Regions from separate parts of the Homo sapiens genome. Here region 1 is linked to region 2. A link means that fine-mapping ties the variant in region 2 to the expression of a gene that starts in the linked region. Tissue or cell type: whole blood. Region 2 holds a variant in brackets; the other region holds the start of a gene. All regions are shown on one strand. Distances are from middle to middle. Region 1 holds the start of AKTIP (AKT interacting protein). Region 2 overlaps RBL2 (RB transcriptional corepressor like 2).

Region 1 (8,097 bases), 27 kb after region 2:
AACAGACTTCAACCAACAAAATAATTATTTCTCAAGAGTAAACCCTTAACTAGAAAAACCAGGTAATTTTGTCAAGATTACAGGTGACCGTGACAGATTATTTTAGCCTTCATTCTGACCCTATTTTCAGACACAGAAGCAAATGGGTTTTCTTACTGAATTTATCAACTATACCTACTTTGCGTACAGAGCTTGTAGACATGCTCCAGAAAGGGTTCATAACGTGTATTCCAAACAAAGAAAGTCAGTGGTGTATCATCCAAATCTTCTGTCTTCGGCATTCACTTTACCTTAAAACAAGACGGGAAGACATAGAAACATGCCAACACCAACCATTAAGACTTTTTTTTTTTTTTAAGATGGAGTCTCACTCTGTTGCCCAGGCTGGAGTGCAGTGGTGTGATCTCGGCTCACTGCAACCTCCACCTCCTGGGTTCAAGCGATTCTCCTGCCTCAGCCTCCTGAGTAGCTGGGATTACAGGTGCCTGCCACCATGCCCAGCTAAGTTTTGTATCTTTAGTAGAGACAGGGTTTCACCATGTTGGCCAGGCTGGTCTCGAACTCCTGACCTCAAGTGATCCACCTGCCTCAGCCTCCCAAAGTGCTGGGATTACGGGCATGAGCCACCACGCCCGGCCAACAGTTAAGACTTCTGAAATGATGAATAACTAATTATGACACCCTGGATATACAATATAATGTTATATAACAAGGGGTTATAAAAACCTAGGAAAAGGTCTTCAGGCATCTTCAGAAATAGTTTCCTTCTATACCCACCTCCTTTTCTGGTTCTAATTTCTTTCACACTTAGATGTCTATAAGAATCTGTGCACCAGGTCCCTTGGCCAGGATTCAGATTACTCAGTGACACAGATGAGCTTTGGTGCCAGAAATTCAGAAGATACGGACAACAGTTGTTACTAGCACATCTCGGCATTTAACTAACAGGAAAGCCAGACTCAGAATGCACTGTACCCACATACACATAAGTTGTATCACTGTTCCCAGGGTTATGGGAACAAACAATAGATACAAGGAGGCTGATTTAAGCGCTGCCTCAACTCACCTGAGTACAAAATGATTCCTCCAGCAAAGTATTAGCCAAAGAAATAAGAGAAAACAGGAAGGCACAGCACAAGTATGTCACTAAGACGACAAAAGTAGTTACCTGAGTCCTGTCAGTACCATCCCCCAATAAACTGCCTTCTACAACTTCGAAACATATAGAAACTGCAGGATCATGTACTTAAGGAACTGCCAAGCAATCCAGACAAATGCAACACAGGCACGCAAGAGAGACATTTCACAAGTACAGATCTTCCAGCCGAAGCTTCAAGTCGTGGATAAGAAAGCATGTCTCAAAGGTCATAAAGTCAGTGGGTCATTTACTAAAAATACAAAGAAGCAAAGGAAAAGCAGCCAAGCCCAGCTGTAAGAACAGCAACTTCCCTGCCCTGGTATTTCCCCCCAGGCTCTGTTACCTTTAAAGCAGAGCTCCTTCTCTGAATTCCTACTTGCACCAATCAAACGGCTGAAGGTGAAAAGGGTCAAAACTAAGCAACGTTTTCCTAATTTCTTAAACAGATCATGAGCAAACCATGTACTAAATGTCCCCAATCAGCAATAATTTGTCTTCTCTGACGAGCTTGTGACATCCAGGGACGTACCCAACCCAGGTCATCCATACCTTGCCAGTGCCCATTACTGCTGTTTTGTTTTCCAAGAGAAAATGCCACCCAGTAATTAAATCAGAGGAATGAAGATCCTGGCTCTTCTACTAGCATGGATAACATGCAATAAGTAACAACAGTTCTCCGCAAATCTGCCTTTAAAGGTGAGTATGACACACTGAATATACTTGAGATATCAAAAATGTGCGGGGGCATGTTCCCCTTTGGCTCAAATGAAGACACTGATTTTCAGATCTAGCAGTAATGTGCAGCACCCCAGTGTCCTCTAGGACACACCTAACACGGGACCGGATCCCTTGGGACACAGTGGTGTGCTCCACAACATACATTTAATGGGCTGGTGCAAACCTGTAAAGTCTCTTAAAGGTCTAACGCGTTAGGATTCTCTTTAAGAATCCAGTAAATTTTGTCCCCAGTTCTGCCTGTCATTAAGCAGGAGGTATTGTCTTCTGCTGCCTAACTTTGCTATGGATCTTTTAATCCAATGTTTCCAGCAGCAACATAATCACGAGAAACTGTAGCACACTTTTCAGGGTCTAGTCTAGGACAAGCACAGCATACATGTTCTGAGAGGAATGACATAGATGGAAGCAAGACATGTTACATCCTTGTCACTTGGAAACAATTTTAGAATTTCTGCCTGTTTGGCCACGGCTGCATTCCTTTACATCACCCAGCTGAGAAGTCTGGGTCTTCAGCCTGCGCGAATGACAGTGCGTGGCAGAGCTAAAACTAGGCTAAAACATGAGTGCTGCTGTTACTCTACATGCCACAGCGCACTCACATCACCCCGAATCGGACTTAAGAAATTACACGTTAAGAGGAGACAGAGCAGGGGCCAGAAAAAAAAAGATGAAAACGGCCCGGGCCAGGCTCGCTGGGGACAGCCGGGACCCGCGGCGGCCTCGGACCGGCACCCTCACCGCGGGCGGAAACCCGTCTCTGAGCACTCAGGGAATCTGGACAAACCTGTCTCGAGGTGATGCAAGGCGGGGGCCCTGTCCTGGCCTCGCAGCTAGCTCGATGCTGGCCCGGGAGCCGCGGGCCCCTCCAGTGGGGGGGCTCTGGGGCCCGGCGACGCCCCCTTAACCAGAGCTCGGGGTCGGGACCCGGCCGGGGAGGGCGGGCACGGGCCGGGGCGAGCCAGCTGGGCCCCCCTCTCCCTCGGGCCGGGCCAGCCCAGCTCCAGCCGCAGTCCCCAGCAGCAGTCCCGGGCTGCGAGGCGGCCAGCGCAGCAGGTGCCTGCAAACGCGCACAGGTGCCCGGCCCCGCCTCCGTGTCCCACTGCGGCCGCCGTCGCCGAGTCGCGAGCGCCTAGAAAGATGGACAAATGCCGGGCCCGTGGAGGCTGGCGGCCAGATTTACAGACACCTCAGCCCTCGCGTACCCACCAGCCTGCCGGGCAGTAAGCCTCACCCCAGTGCCTTCAATGCAGAGCTCCTGGCTGCCAAGCGCCGCCGCGGCCCGACAGCATCTCCCGCCGCAGCGCCAGCCCTGCCCCTGCTTGATCCCCGCCCCGCCCCACCCCGCCCTGCCCTGCCCTGCCCTGCCCTCGGCAGCGGGCTCCGCCCCCTGCTGCACGATCCTGGGGCCCGAGGCTTCCGCCTGGCCTCCCGGCGCCAACTGGCTCTCACACCTGCCCGTCAAAGACGTTCTTCCGGGGGCGTTGGGAAGAACACACTCGGTCCTGCAAATCAAATCACCCCGGTTTGGGTGGGACTGCACTTGACCCTCCCCTTACGTAACAGCGCCTGGGACGGCCTGTCAGTCATGGAAGTATCGGCCCCCCGGGGAGGGATGGGGCAGAGACAAACAAGCGCCGGGTCACAATTGGCCAGGGCGTCTGCCAGTCACCACGGAGACCTTCCCGGAGGTTTATTCGCACAGCCCACAGCGCAACCGCCATGCGCAGGGGCTGGGGCATACGCTAACGTCTGCAAGCCAAGCTTTTGGGGAGGGCCGGGCCGCGCGACTGCCCAGTGGCTCCCATCGCTAGGTCCTACTGCGTTGGGCGGCGCTGCGAGGCCCGAGGCCGCCACGTCGGGCCCACAGGGTACCAGGGGTCAGAAGGACACTTGGCGTGGCATCAAGAAACGCCCGTTCTCTCCATCAGTGCAGGAGCTGAAGGCTGGAGCTGAAGGGAGCTCAGCTCCAAGTGGGCCCTGGGCACTAGAGCAGCCAGAGGAGCTTTGTAAATCTGTGTGTGTCGGCCCCGACCTGCAGCATCCGAGTGGGGGCCGGGGGCTGGGGGGAGGGGGGAGGCTGAGGACCAGGAATCCACATCTGTCACAGTTCGCTGCTGATTCTGGCGCACACTGAAGTTGGAGAACCTCTCCCATAGCAACATAGTTCCTGGTCTTTTTTTTTTTTTTTTTTTTTAATTCACACGCTCTCATTTGGACCTCCCGTCTGCTTTCCCATGGAGGTCTCTCTCTGGCCTAATTCTGTGACTGCTGCCAGCTGCTTTCCAGGCCTGTTCTTACCAACGGTGCCTCCCCGTGGTTAGTCCGTCCAATCTCGGCACTCCACTTCCACACTTGCGCGACAGCCCTCTCCCCGCAAGCCCCTGCCCCTTTTCTAGACACCAGAGGCACTGACCTGTCTGTGACACCGCCTCAGTGTCTTACACTCAGAAGCCGCATTCTCTGGCCGGGTTGTTTGGTCCATTTTTGGTTGCCTCTGAGATTCTGGTAAGTGACTTATTAAAGGGCAGGAAGCCAAATTCTCCTGATGTTAATCCCAAGGGTTGGTTCTGAAACCCAGCTTCCTCCCCTAGCTGAAAACACTTCTGAGCCACTTCCTTTTGTCCCCTTAGGACACATTTAGGAATGTTATCATGCCTTTTAATACGAGTCTTAATACAGAAAGGCAGGCAAGCAGGAAATCCTTTTTTCAGGCCACAGGTGGTCTCCTTTGGCACCTCTGTGGCCCATTTCCTCCCAATCTTCTTTGAAGCTCATTATCCTCTGCAAAGCTTTTTTTCTGCTTTCCTCCTTTCCCCAACCTTCAGTTTTCACCGAGGACCCACATAGGTATTTCTCCAGCTCACATCTATCCACTGAGCTTCCAATGCATGTCATCAACTGCGTACTTGGCACCGGATGACTCAGACGCACACCAGCATCAGACTGCACATGGCAGGAAAGCCAACTCAAACCGGCTTACTTAGCAAGGGGATTTCTCTCCCATGGGAGGATTGTCTCCAGAGGTGGTGCCCTGGTCTTCAGGCTCTGCTTTCCTTGCAGTCCCTGGAATTGCACTTTCAGGCTGGTAGCAAGATGGCCGCGGCACACCCAGGATCTCACAAAATTAAAAGTATCCCTTTCTTCCAGTGGTCCCTTTTGAAATACATGACTACCTTTCCCAGAAGCTCCGCAGAAGAAATGCCTGCAGGTTTCAATGGCCAGAAGTAAGTCTCTGGCCACAACGAAACCCAGTCAACGGCAAGTGGAAGGAGTCCGCCATGATCGACTTGGGCTGAGATTTTCCCTAGATCTCTGCCTGGACTTTAGGCAGAGGAGAGCCATGATCAGATTTGTATTTTGAAAACATCACTTTGTGCGGAAAACAGATTGTAGGGGCACAAGGCTCACGGGGCAGTTGAGGAACCATGGCAGTAGTTCAGGCAACAGAGAATCGCATGAATTTGAAGGTAGAGATGGAGAATTGAATGAGTTCCAGAGATGTTTAAGACGGGATGATATAGTTTGGATATGGTTTGACCCTTCCAAACCTCATATTGAAATGTGACCCCCAATGTTGAAAGTGGGGCCTGGTGGGAGTATTTGGGTCATGGAGGCTGATCCCTCATGAAAGGCTTGGTGCTGTCCTGGCAGTAGTGAGTTCTTGGCAGTAGTGAGTGAGTTCTATTAGTTCCCGAGAGAATTGATTGTCAAAAAGAGCCTGTCACCTTCTCCTCCCCTGACCACTGCTCTCTCTCTTGCCAAATGATTCCTGCTGGCCTCTCCCTCTGCCATGAATGGAAGCTTCCTGAGGTCCTCACCAGAAGATGCTGGTGCCATGCTTCTTATACTTAGTTGCCTCTGTCTTTCATTTGACATATATTTATTGCATGCTTAATGACATCTAGGCTTTAAATGCTGGGGAGGCGTTGGAGAACAAAACAGACATTGTTCCTCCTCATGGAGCTACGGGAGATAGATGCTAATCAAGTCATCTCCCAAATCAATGGCTAATTGCCCCAAGGAAGTGGACAATGAGCTGAATAAACCTCTTTTTAAAAATAAATGACCCAGCCTCAGGTATTCCTTTATAGCAACACTGATGGATTCATACAGGTGGGGTGGACAGAGCTTGGCCATGGACTAGGTATGGGGGATGAAGAGGCAGATATGGCTGACACCTAGATTTTTAGCATGAGCTACAGGATGGATGGTGAGGCCATTCACTGAGGTGACAAACAGTGAACCACAAGCAGGTTTGGGACAGTGGGAAATGGGAAAATCTGGGTTGTGTTTTGGGTAGGTATGTTTGGGGTGTTTCTGTAAGCACTATTGCCTGTATACCTAATACCCACTTCTCCCTTTTTCATTGCTGACAGAACCTCCATTTTCTTGAGGAATTTAAGCCCTTCAGTGGTTCCCCATTGGGCAAAGACCAAACTCCTCACCATGGCTGTGTCCCAGCCCCAGGTGGCTGCAGACTCCAGCCACTCTGACATTCTTCCAGTTCCTTGGAAGGGAGTTGCTCCCCTACCTGCCCTGCCACAAAAGGGGCCTTCGCAGTGAACGTTCCCTTTGCCCAGTTCATTCTCTTCAATCCCCTACACAGATCTCAGCTCTAACACTACTTCCTTGGGGGCAATTTGCTGTTGATTTGGGAGATTATTAGTGTCTGTCTCCCACACTGTAAGCTCCTGAGGAGGAACCATTTTTTTGCTTTCTATTGTCTCCCCGGCACCCAAGAGCTAGATGTTGTAGGCATGCAATAAATATTTGCCAAATGAAGGACAGAAGAAACAAAAGTACATTTGAAACACCTACCTGCACGCCCACAGGTCTGCACCAAGAAAGCAACTCATTATGAAAATCAGGATGATTTATTCAAAGGGAAATGAGGAGGTGGCCTCAAGGTACCATTTCTTTAAGACTAAAACATAAAGTGCTGAGAAAAATCTCAATGGACCCAAAACCTTACCTATAAAACATTTTAAATCGCTTCATATTACATTTCCTATTCTCAATTTTTGAAGCATATTTGATATATTTGCACCAAAAGGTTCTTTTTGCATCCAGACTTAATAGATATGTGATCTCTGAGTATTCAGGACTTCTGCTCATGTTCTAATCAGCAAAATATTCCCTGAATCATACATCTTTTGGACTCCGGAAAAGTAACTGTACAAAGCTGTTTAGATCACTGACTTAACTATTAAAGGCCTTCACAGAAAGAAGGAAAGGATAAAATGTTGAAGGTTGTTAAAATACATATGTTTCATACACAGGCACACATATAAGCCGATGTTTTTAGCGCAATCCATTTGCCCCCAAGTCCTTTTCTGAAAAGTAGATTCCTGTATACATGTCACTGATTACATATACTGTTCAAAATATGGGAGGATGATCTAGCTATACATATTAATGTCTTTGAAAAAATATACTTAGCACATTAAAGCCATTATTTTATGGGTAATAATGTTTAGGATGAGACCAAAGTAGGCATTTAATGTTGTTGTTTTTTTTAAGTAAATGGATTTAAGGGAGATCAGATAGTTGTCCTATAGTTAACAATGATCCTCAGACAAGACAGAAATCACAAACTTTTAAGAATTATTGAAGGTTTAGAAATGCTGCTATAGACGGATGATGTGGCTTTCTTCCTTTCCATAGCCTCATCGAGCGATACGGTTCTTGCTTATAACATCACACATGTGCTTCCAGGTTTTGGTTGCATCATGTTTTCCTCCCTATCCCATTACCCATAACTCCTATCCCTGAGCAAGTGGGTGGGCGGGTGGAGGAATGAATTTTACAGACAGACTACAACATTTCAAAATGAAATCAGGGTAGCTGATGGACCACTGCGGATATTTATGTCTTAAGGAAAAGCAACCAATATATGATACGGCTGCTCATTCAGGGCTGAAGAGAACTGATTTCCTTTTATAATCAAACAGCATTTTGAACGTGGTCTGACACCGCAAATAATCCCCACTCCCTCAGCACGCTGATGACTGTACCCACAGCCATAAGAGCAGTGTTCTCTTTGATTCAGTTTATCTTTGGGAAACCACTTCACTCTGTGGTCTCAAAGCATTTGGAATGATGATAAAGGCTTGAGTTAGTTTTATCTAGAGTGGCACACTCAGAAAACCAAAGAGAGAGAAAGCAATACTCTTTCAGGGAAGGGTACTATTCCAGGCACAGACACCTTTTCTTTCTTGCAA
Region 2 (8,532 bases):
TTCCTCACTGAATGGCCTTGGTACCCTCCTTTAAAATCAATTGACCGTTGACAACATTTGGGTTTATTTCTGAACTCTAAATTCTATTCCACTGGACTATATGCCTATCCTTATGCAATACCATATTCTCTAGATTAGAGAGTTGCTTTCTTATAAGTTTTGAAATTGGGAAATATGAGTGCTCCTACTTTTTTTTTCTTTTCAAGATTATTTTCGAAGTCCCTTGAAAAATGAATTTTAGAATCAAATTATCAGTTTCACAAAGGAATAAGCTAGGATTCTGATAGGGTTGCACTGAATCTGTAGATCCATTTGGGGAGTATTGCCATCTTAACAATTTTATATCTTCTGATCCATGAACATAGGATGTTTTTCCATTTATTTAGATCTTCTGTTTTTTTTTCAACAATGCTTTGTACTTTTCAGAGTATGTTTGCAATTCTTTTGTTAAATTTATTCCTATTCTTGTTGATGCTATTCCAAGTGTAGTTGTTTCATTGTTAACGTGTTCATTGCAAGTGTATAGAAAAACACTTTTGTATATTGATCTAGTATCCAGCAACTTTGCAGAAGTTATTAGTTCTAATAGTTTTCTAGTAGATTCCTTAGGATTACTATGTAGGAAATCATGTAATCTGCTTATAATTTTACTTCTTGTCCAAACTGGATGCCTTTTATTTCTTTTTCTTTCCTAATTATCTTGCTAGAACTTCCAGTATAGTTGAACAGAACTGTCGAAAGCAGAAATCCTTGTCTTGATCTTAGGTGGAAAGCATCTAGTTTTTCACTATTAAAGTATGATAGTAGTTATGGTTTTTTTCATAGATGCCCTTTATCAGGTTGAGGAAGTTCCCTTCTTTTCTTAGTTCATTGAGTGTTTTTTTTATCATGAAAGGGCATTAGATTTTGTCAAATGCTTGTGTGTCCATTGAGATGATCGTGTGCTTATTTTTTTTATTCTATTAATATAGTATATTACACTGATTAATCTTCCTATGTTAAACCAGCCTTGCATTTCTGGTGTAAATCCCTCTCAGTCATGGTGTGTAAGTCTTATTTTTTTCTTTTTTTGAGACAGTGTCTCGCTCTGTTACCCAGGCTAGAGTGCAGTGGTGAGATCATAGCTCACTACAAGCAGTCCTCCCACCTTCATCTCCTGAGTAGCTGGGACTACAGGTACATGCTGCCATGCCTGGCTAATTTTTTAAATTTTTTGTAGACAGGGTCTACCTTGTTGCACAGGCTGGTCTCGAACTCCTAAGCTCAAGCAGTCCTCATGCCTCAGCCTCCCAATGTGTTGGGATTATAGGCGTGAGCCACTGCACCCGGCTGCTGTAATTCTTTTATTTATTTATTTATTTATTTATTTATTTTGAGATGGAATTTCGCTCTTGTTGCCCAGGCTGGAGTGCAGTGGCGAGATCTTGGCTCACCGCAACCTCCGCCTCCCAGGTTCAAGCAATTCTCCTGCCTCAGCCTCCCAAGTAGCTGGGATTACAGGCATGTGCCACCACCCCTGGCTAATTTTGTATTTTCAGTAGGGACGGGGTTTCTCCATATTGGTCAGGCTGGTCTCAAACTCCCAACCTCAGGTGATCCACCTGCCTCGGCCTCCCAAAGTGCTGGGATTATAGGCGTGAGCCACGGTGCCCAGCCTATAATTCTTTTTATATGTTGCTAGGTTTGGTTTGCCAACAGTTTGTTGAGGAATTTGTTTTCAGTTAAAAAAAATATTTATTTTTTCAAGTTTCCACATGCAGCAGTGATTGCTAAGGAATTTTATCCTTATGCATAAGAGGCATTGGTCTGTAGTTTTCTTGTTGTGGCTTTGTCTGGTTTTATTATCAGGGTAATAATGGTCTCATAGAATTGAGTAGGAAGTGTTCTCTTCTATATTTAGGTATTATATTTTTTCCTTTGCCTTTTTTTTTAATTTACAGCTGCCTGAAAGACCCATGGATATGAGCTTCTTGGTATTAATGTTTTAAAGTTTGGTAGAATTCAGCAGCGAAGCTGTTGAGACCAGAGATTTTCCTTGTGGGAAGTTTATTGGTGAATAATTCCGTCTCTTATTTGTTATAGGTCTATTCAGATCATCTGTTTCTTCTAGAATCAGTTGTGGTAGTGTATGTCTTTCTAAGAATTTGTCTGTTTCCTCTGGGCTAAATTGTTGGCAAATAATTATAATATTTCCTTCTGTTCTTTTTTATTCTTTAAGGTCAGTAGTAATGTCCTTTTCCTTTTATGATTGTAGTTTTCGTTTTGTTTTGTTTTTTGAGACAGTCTCACTCTGTTGTCCAGGCTGGAATACAGGGGCATGATCTTGGCTTACTGAAACCTTAGCCTCCTGGTTTCCAGTGATTCTTGTGCCTCAGCCTCCTGAGTAGTTGGGACTACAGGCCTGTGCCACCTCGCCCAGCTAGTTTTTGTATTTTTAGTAGAGATGGAATTTCCCCATGTTGCCCAGGCTGGTCTCAAACTCTTGGCCTCAAGCGATCCATCCACCTTGGCCTCCCAAAGTGCTGGGATTGCAGGCATGAGCCCCTGTGCCCTGCTTTTTGTAGTAGTTTGAGACTCCTCCCTTTTGTTCTTGGTCTAGCTAAAGGTTTGTCAATTTTCTTGATCTTTTTCTTTTAAAAACCAGCTTTTTGGTTTCATTTATCTATTTTTGTGTTCTTTATTCATTAGTATATAATCTTATTTCCTTCTTTCTGCTTACTTGAGGCTTACTTTTTGCCCTTTTCTGTTGTTTTAAGATGGTTTAAGATGGATGTTTAGGTAATTAATTTACTATTTCTCTTAATATCTTTTTTCCCCAAATCCTTTACGTAGATATCAGTATCTTTTAAAAGATACCTTTCTAATATTTCAATATCTTTTTTTTTTTTTTTTTTTTTTTTTTTTGAGACAGCATCTTGCTCTGTCGCCTAGGCTGGAGTGTAGTGCTCACGGCAGCCTTCCTCCAGGGCTTAAGTGATCCTCTTCCCTAAGCTTCCTGAGTAGCTGGGACCACAGCCGTGCACCACCATGCCCTGCTAATTTTTTGTAGATACGAGATTTTGCTGTGTTACCCAGGCTGGTCTCGAACTCCTGAGCTCAAGCAATCCTCCCTCCTCAGCCTCCCAAAGTGCTGGGATTACAGGTGTGAGCCACCGCCCTTGGCCCTTCTTCATTTTCAGTGTAAGCATTAACAACTCTAAATTTTCCTCCGTGCACTGCTTTAGCTGCATGAGTGTTGGTATGGTGTGTCTTCATTTCAAAAGTATTTTCTGATTTCTTTTTTTGGCTTCTGTTTGACTCACTGGTTATGTAGCAATATGTTGTTAACTTCGTATTTGTAAGTTTCCCAAATTTGTTACTGATTTCTACTTTCATTGTGATTGAAAACACACTTCATTTTATTCCAGTTCTTTTAAATATATTAAGAATTGTTTTATAGCCTAGCATATATGCTCTATCCTAATGAATTTCAAAGTACATTTGAGAACAGTGTGTATTCTGTGGAGGTTGGGGAGAGTGTTCTGTAGATGTCTGTTAGGTCTAATTGTTTTATATTGTTAGTAAAGTGTTTTGTTTCCTTGTTGATCTGCCTAGATCATCTCTCCATTCTTGAAAGTGAGGTACTGAAATCTATAAATATTATTGCTGAATTGTCTACTTTTCCCTTCACTTCTGTCACTTTTCGCTTCAGGTATTTTTTGTGCTCAGTTATTAGGTATGTGTATAACTGTTATAGATTCCTGATGGCTTGATCCTTTTATCATTATGGAATGTCCCTTTTTAATAACTTTTTTTGTCCTGAAGTCTGATTTATAGTGTGAGATATATAGTCACCCAGCTTTCTTATGGTTGCTGTCTG[T/C]ATACCTCTTTCCATCCTTTCATTTTCGAATGTATTTGTATTTTTTAAATCTAAAATGTCTCCTGTAGATAAAATACATTTGGATTTCTTTTGCCTTTTGACTATGTATATAATTGGATTTACATCTGCCATTTTACTTTTTGTTTTCATGTCTTTCCCTTTGCCTTTGCAGCTTTGCTTTTGCATTAGGTCAATATTTTCTAAAGTAGCATTTTAACGTCAGTACTTTGGTTTCATTTTGTGTGTGTGTGTGTGTGTGTGTGTAGTGGTTGCCCTAGGGCTTACCATATATCTCTTATCAAAAATCAGCTTCAGATTATACTGACTTAATTCCAGTGAGATATAGGAGTGTTAACTGTTTCGTTACACATATTACATCCATAAATGTACAACTCCACCAGTACATTGTTATAATTATTGATACAATTTTATGACTTCTAAAGTAGCAGAAAGGAAAGGAGTGTAAGTATGTATTTAAAACTTTTGCTCTAGTAACCTTATTAATAATTTCTGGTTTCCTTTCTTTCTTTCTTTTTTAAGACTGAGTCTTGCTCTGTCGCCCAGACTAGAGAGCAGCGGTGCAATCTCAACTCACTGTAACCTCTGCCTCCCGGGCTCAAATGATCCTTCTGCCTCAGCCTCCCATGTAGCTGGGCCTACAGGGTGCAGGCATGTGCCACCATGCCCGGCTGATTTTTGTATTTTTTTGTAGAGACGGGGTTTTGCCATGTTGCCCAGGCTGGTGTCGAACTCCTGGCCTCAAGCAGTTCACTTGCCTCAGCCTCACAAAATGTTGGGATTACAGGAGTAGCCACTACACCCAGCCTATTTCTATTTCTCTTATTCATTCCTGTGTATGTGAGTTGCCATCTGGAGTAATTTCCTTTGCTCAATATGGCTTTGCTCCTGCCTACCTCCTTTGTACTGTTGTAGGCAAATATGTTACATTTTTGTATGTTATGGGTACATTATATATATATATTATTTATACAATTGATTTTTTAATCAGTTAAGAAAGGAGAAGAAATGTGCAGTTATACTGTATTTACGATTACATAATTATCTTTACCAGTGCTCTTGGCTTTCTTCATGTGTAGTGTTGTCCAGGGGCATTTGCTTTTGGCTTCTAGAATTTTGTGTAGTATTTCTTGTAAGGGGTTTGCTAGCACCAAATTCTGTTTTTGTTTATCTGAGAGTATATTTATTTTACCTTCATTTCTGAAAGATAACTTGCAAAAATTTTGAATATTGACATTTCAGAGATAAAAATCTTGAGTAACTTTTTAATACTGGATTCTTAGTTTAATATTTTTTCTTTCATCACTTTGAATGTTATCCCACTGCCTCCTGGCCTCTGTAGTTTCTGATTAGAAGTCAAATTTTATTTTATTGGGGTTTCCCTGTAACTGAAAAGTTGTTTTTCTCTTGATGCTTTTAATATTTTCTTTCTTTGGCTTTGAACATTTTTACTGTGATATATCTGGGTACGGATGAGTTTATCCTACCTGGAAGTCACTGAATGTCCTGGATATGTAATTTAATAAATTTGGGAAGTTTTCAGTATTTCTTTGAACATTTTTTTCTGCTTCTTTCTCTCCTCTCCTGATTCTCCCATTACACGTATGTTGATTTCCTTAATGGTGTGCCACATTTCTCTGAGGCTGTTTTTCTTCATTCTTTCTCTGTTCCTCAGATCACACAATCTCTTTCTTCATGTTTGCTAATCCTTTTTTTTTTTTTTTTGCTAGTTCAAATCTGTTTTCCCTAGCTTCTAGTGAATTTTTCATTTCATTTACTGTACTTTTCTACTCCAAGTCTTTTTTTGAGAGAGAGTCTTGCTCTGTCACCCAGGCTGTACAGTGGCTCAATCTCAGCTCACTGCAACCTCCATCTCCCAGGTTCAAGTGATTCTCCTGCCTCAGCCTCCCCAGTAGCTGGGATTACAGGCATGTGCCACCATGCCCGGCTAATTTTTGTATTTTTAGTAGATACTGGGTTTCACCATGATGGCCAGGCTGGTCTTGAACTCGTGACTTCAAGTGATCCACCCTCCTCAGCCTCCCAAAGTGCTGGGATTACAGGTGTGAACCACCGCACCTGGCCTCTAAGTCTTGATTCACATACTATAGACTCCTATTGTTTTTATTGAATTTTAATAGATATTCTTGAATCGATGTATCTTCATTTGCTATATGCCGTTAATACCATTTCCAGAGACTTTAAATAGCTTTTATATAATTTTCACCCCTTTTACTGGGCAGCAGGTTCACAGAGCTCCTCACACTATTATGGTGGTAGTTGCCATGTCTCTCAGAGCACTCTTATTGTTTGCCAGGTCACAAAAGAAGATAAGTCCTTCCAGAACATTATGCGTTGTTATAGGACTCAGCCGCAGGCCCGGAGCCAGGTAACTACATTTTCTCTATGGGCTGAAAAATAAAGCTTAAAGTCTGTGATGAATACAAAAAATTAACCATAGTTGACTCTGTGGCCTTTTTTCCAAGATAAACACCTGGGACTCTACTTAAGGGAAGTTTCTACTTTAATCTTTATTCTTGATGTCACATGTTGATTAAGGTCTCTTTTCCTCAAAAGGCAACAATGTTAAATATTTGATTGCCTTCTTAATTCAGAAAAATCACAAGATAGGAATTAAGAAGTTACTTGGTTTCTATGTCACCTTTCATTCTGGTTTAGTAAACATACTGTAGGTTTAACCAACAGAATGTCACATGGAAATTTAAAACCCACTTTGCCTTTATTACCATTCATCTCTGAGAGGCAAATCGGCCAGATCTGTGTATCTTACTTAGAATGACTTGACATTATGGTTGGGTGCTGTCACTGCAGTGTAGTACTGCAGGTAGTACTTGGCATGTGATGCTAGATGGGCTCTGATTGAATCCTGGATCTGTTATAATTTGAGTTATGTTTCTCAACCTGTTCTGAGGACAACTATTGCTATACAGGTTATTGTGAAAACCAAGTAACATATGTGAAGGTCCTATCACCAAGGGTGTGCTCAACAAATACTAGTTTATGTCCCCTTCTCATTGTTTCTCTAAAGGTGTATAGAAGTGTTTTGATAAAAGGGAAAAGAAAAAGAAGAAATTCTGGCAGCAGTGATAGCAGAAGCCATCAGAATTCTCCAACAGAACTAAACAAAGATAGAAGTAAGTGGGATCTTTGTGAACTACAAGACAAAATTAGGAGCTTTTCTTACTTTTTAGGCCTTGAAGAAGTAACTAAGCATTACTAAATGAAATAACTATAGAAACTATGAAAGTGTTTTATAGATCAGTAAACCATATTCTAGCTGGCAAAACTGTCCATTACATAGCTTTGGGGCACATATTATGTAACATTTTTCTCCAGGAGAATTAGAGCTTTCAGGGAGGAATCTGCTTGCCTGAGTTCCAGAAAGGTCTGATATGTCAATTGGAACCATGCTATGGAAATACCATCCCCTGCCTGTTGCTTTGTACCACTTAGTACAGGGCTTAGGTCCTAGAAAATTTGGTGTAACTTATTAATGGACACTACTCAGAAAGCCCTTGCTATGGTTATGGCATAGGGAGAAAGTTAATATCCTAGCTGAGCTTTGCTTTTTGGTGTGAAGAACAGAGTGCCTATTCACTGTTATTAGCAAGTAGTGCAGGTAGCTGTTCCCTTTCTCCTACTTTTAAAAAATTAAAACAGTCAATATTAGCAGCCTTTGTACTGACAGCCTTTGTTCTCCTGGCTGCAGCCAGTAGAGACTCCAGTCCAGTTATGAGGTCAAGCAGCACCTTGCCAGTTCCACAGCCCAGCAGTGCTCCTCCCACACCTACTCGCCTCACAGGTGCCAACAGTGACATGGAAGAAGAGGAGAGGGGAGACCTCATTCAGTTCTACAACAACATCTACATCAAACAGATTAAGACATTTGCCATGAAGTACTCACAGGCAAATGTAAGTATGACAGGGATTATTTCATACTTTTTTCACTCATGAGTGTTGAGGAATCATTTATGATTTATATATGGACCATTCACCTGGTCCGTATATAAACTAGTTTTGGCCAGGTGTGGTGGCTCACACCTGTAATCCCAGCACTTTGGGAGGCCGAGGAGGGCAGATCACTTGAGGTCAGGAGTTCAAGACCAGCCTGGCCAACGTGGTAAAACCCAGTCTCTACTAAAAATACAAAAATGAGCTGGGCGTGGTGGCACACACTTGTAATCCCAGCTACTCTGGGGGCTGAGGCAGGAGAATTGTTTGAACATGGGAGGCGGTGGTTGCAGTGACCTGAGATTGTGCCACTGCACTCCAGCTTGGGTGACAGAACAAGACTCTGTCTCATAAATAAGCTAGTTTTACAAATAATTCTATTAAGTAAAACTGAGGAGGTCTGTAATTTACCTAACCAATATAAATTCTACTGTTGTTAAGCATTAAACGAGTAAGATTGTATTTGGAGTCCCTACAAAGTATAGTAGTACAAGAGACAGGCTACATGGGTTCAAATTTTCCAGTACTTAACAGTGGTGGTAACCTTGCAAATCATTAAATTTTCTCTGTACCTCATTTCCTCATATATAAAATGGGAATATAACTAGTTCCTAGCATATGGGGTTGTTGTAAGGATGAAATGACATAATGTATAAAAATTGCTTAAAATAATAACTGGCACA

Evidence for each region. PIP is the estimated chance that this variant, and not a neighbour inherited with it, causes the effect.
Region 1: AKTIP starts here. The variant in region 2 is fine-mapped to the expression of AKTIP in whole blood (INTERVAL, PIP 0.93).

The regions. Positions count from the first base shown.
Region 1 is chr16:53,500,040-53,508,136 of GRCh38, forward strand. It overlaps AKTIP (AKT interacting protein), which reads right to left and starts at 3,170. Exons shown (of 10, transcript NM_022476.4): 1 at 3,108-3,170; 2 at 179-290. The coding sequence starts at 220. It overlaps LOC124903690 (a long non-coding RNA gene), which reads left to right and starts at 4,341. Exons shown (of 2, transcript XR_007065069.1): 1 at 4,341-4,381; 2 at 4,702-5,939. RefSeq lists enhancers at 2,366-2,867, 2,868-3,367, 3,828-3,927 and silencers at 2,638-2,937, 3,198-3,267, 3,288-3,527, 4,248-4,337.
Region 2 is chr16:53,472,960-53,481,491 of GRCh38, forward strand. RBL2 (RB transcriptional corepressor like 2) reads left to right here. Exons shown (of 22, transcript NM_005611.4): 18 at 6,195-6,266; 19 at 6,927-7,032; 20 at 7,608-7,810. Among named protein-coding and RNA genes, the nearest start is that of AKTIP, 26 kb to the right of the region's middle. The variant T/C (reference allele first, on the strand shown) is at 3,860.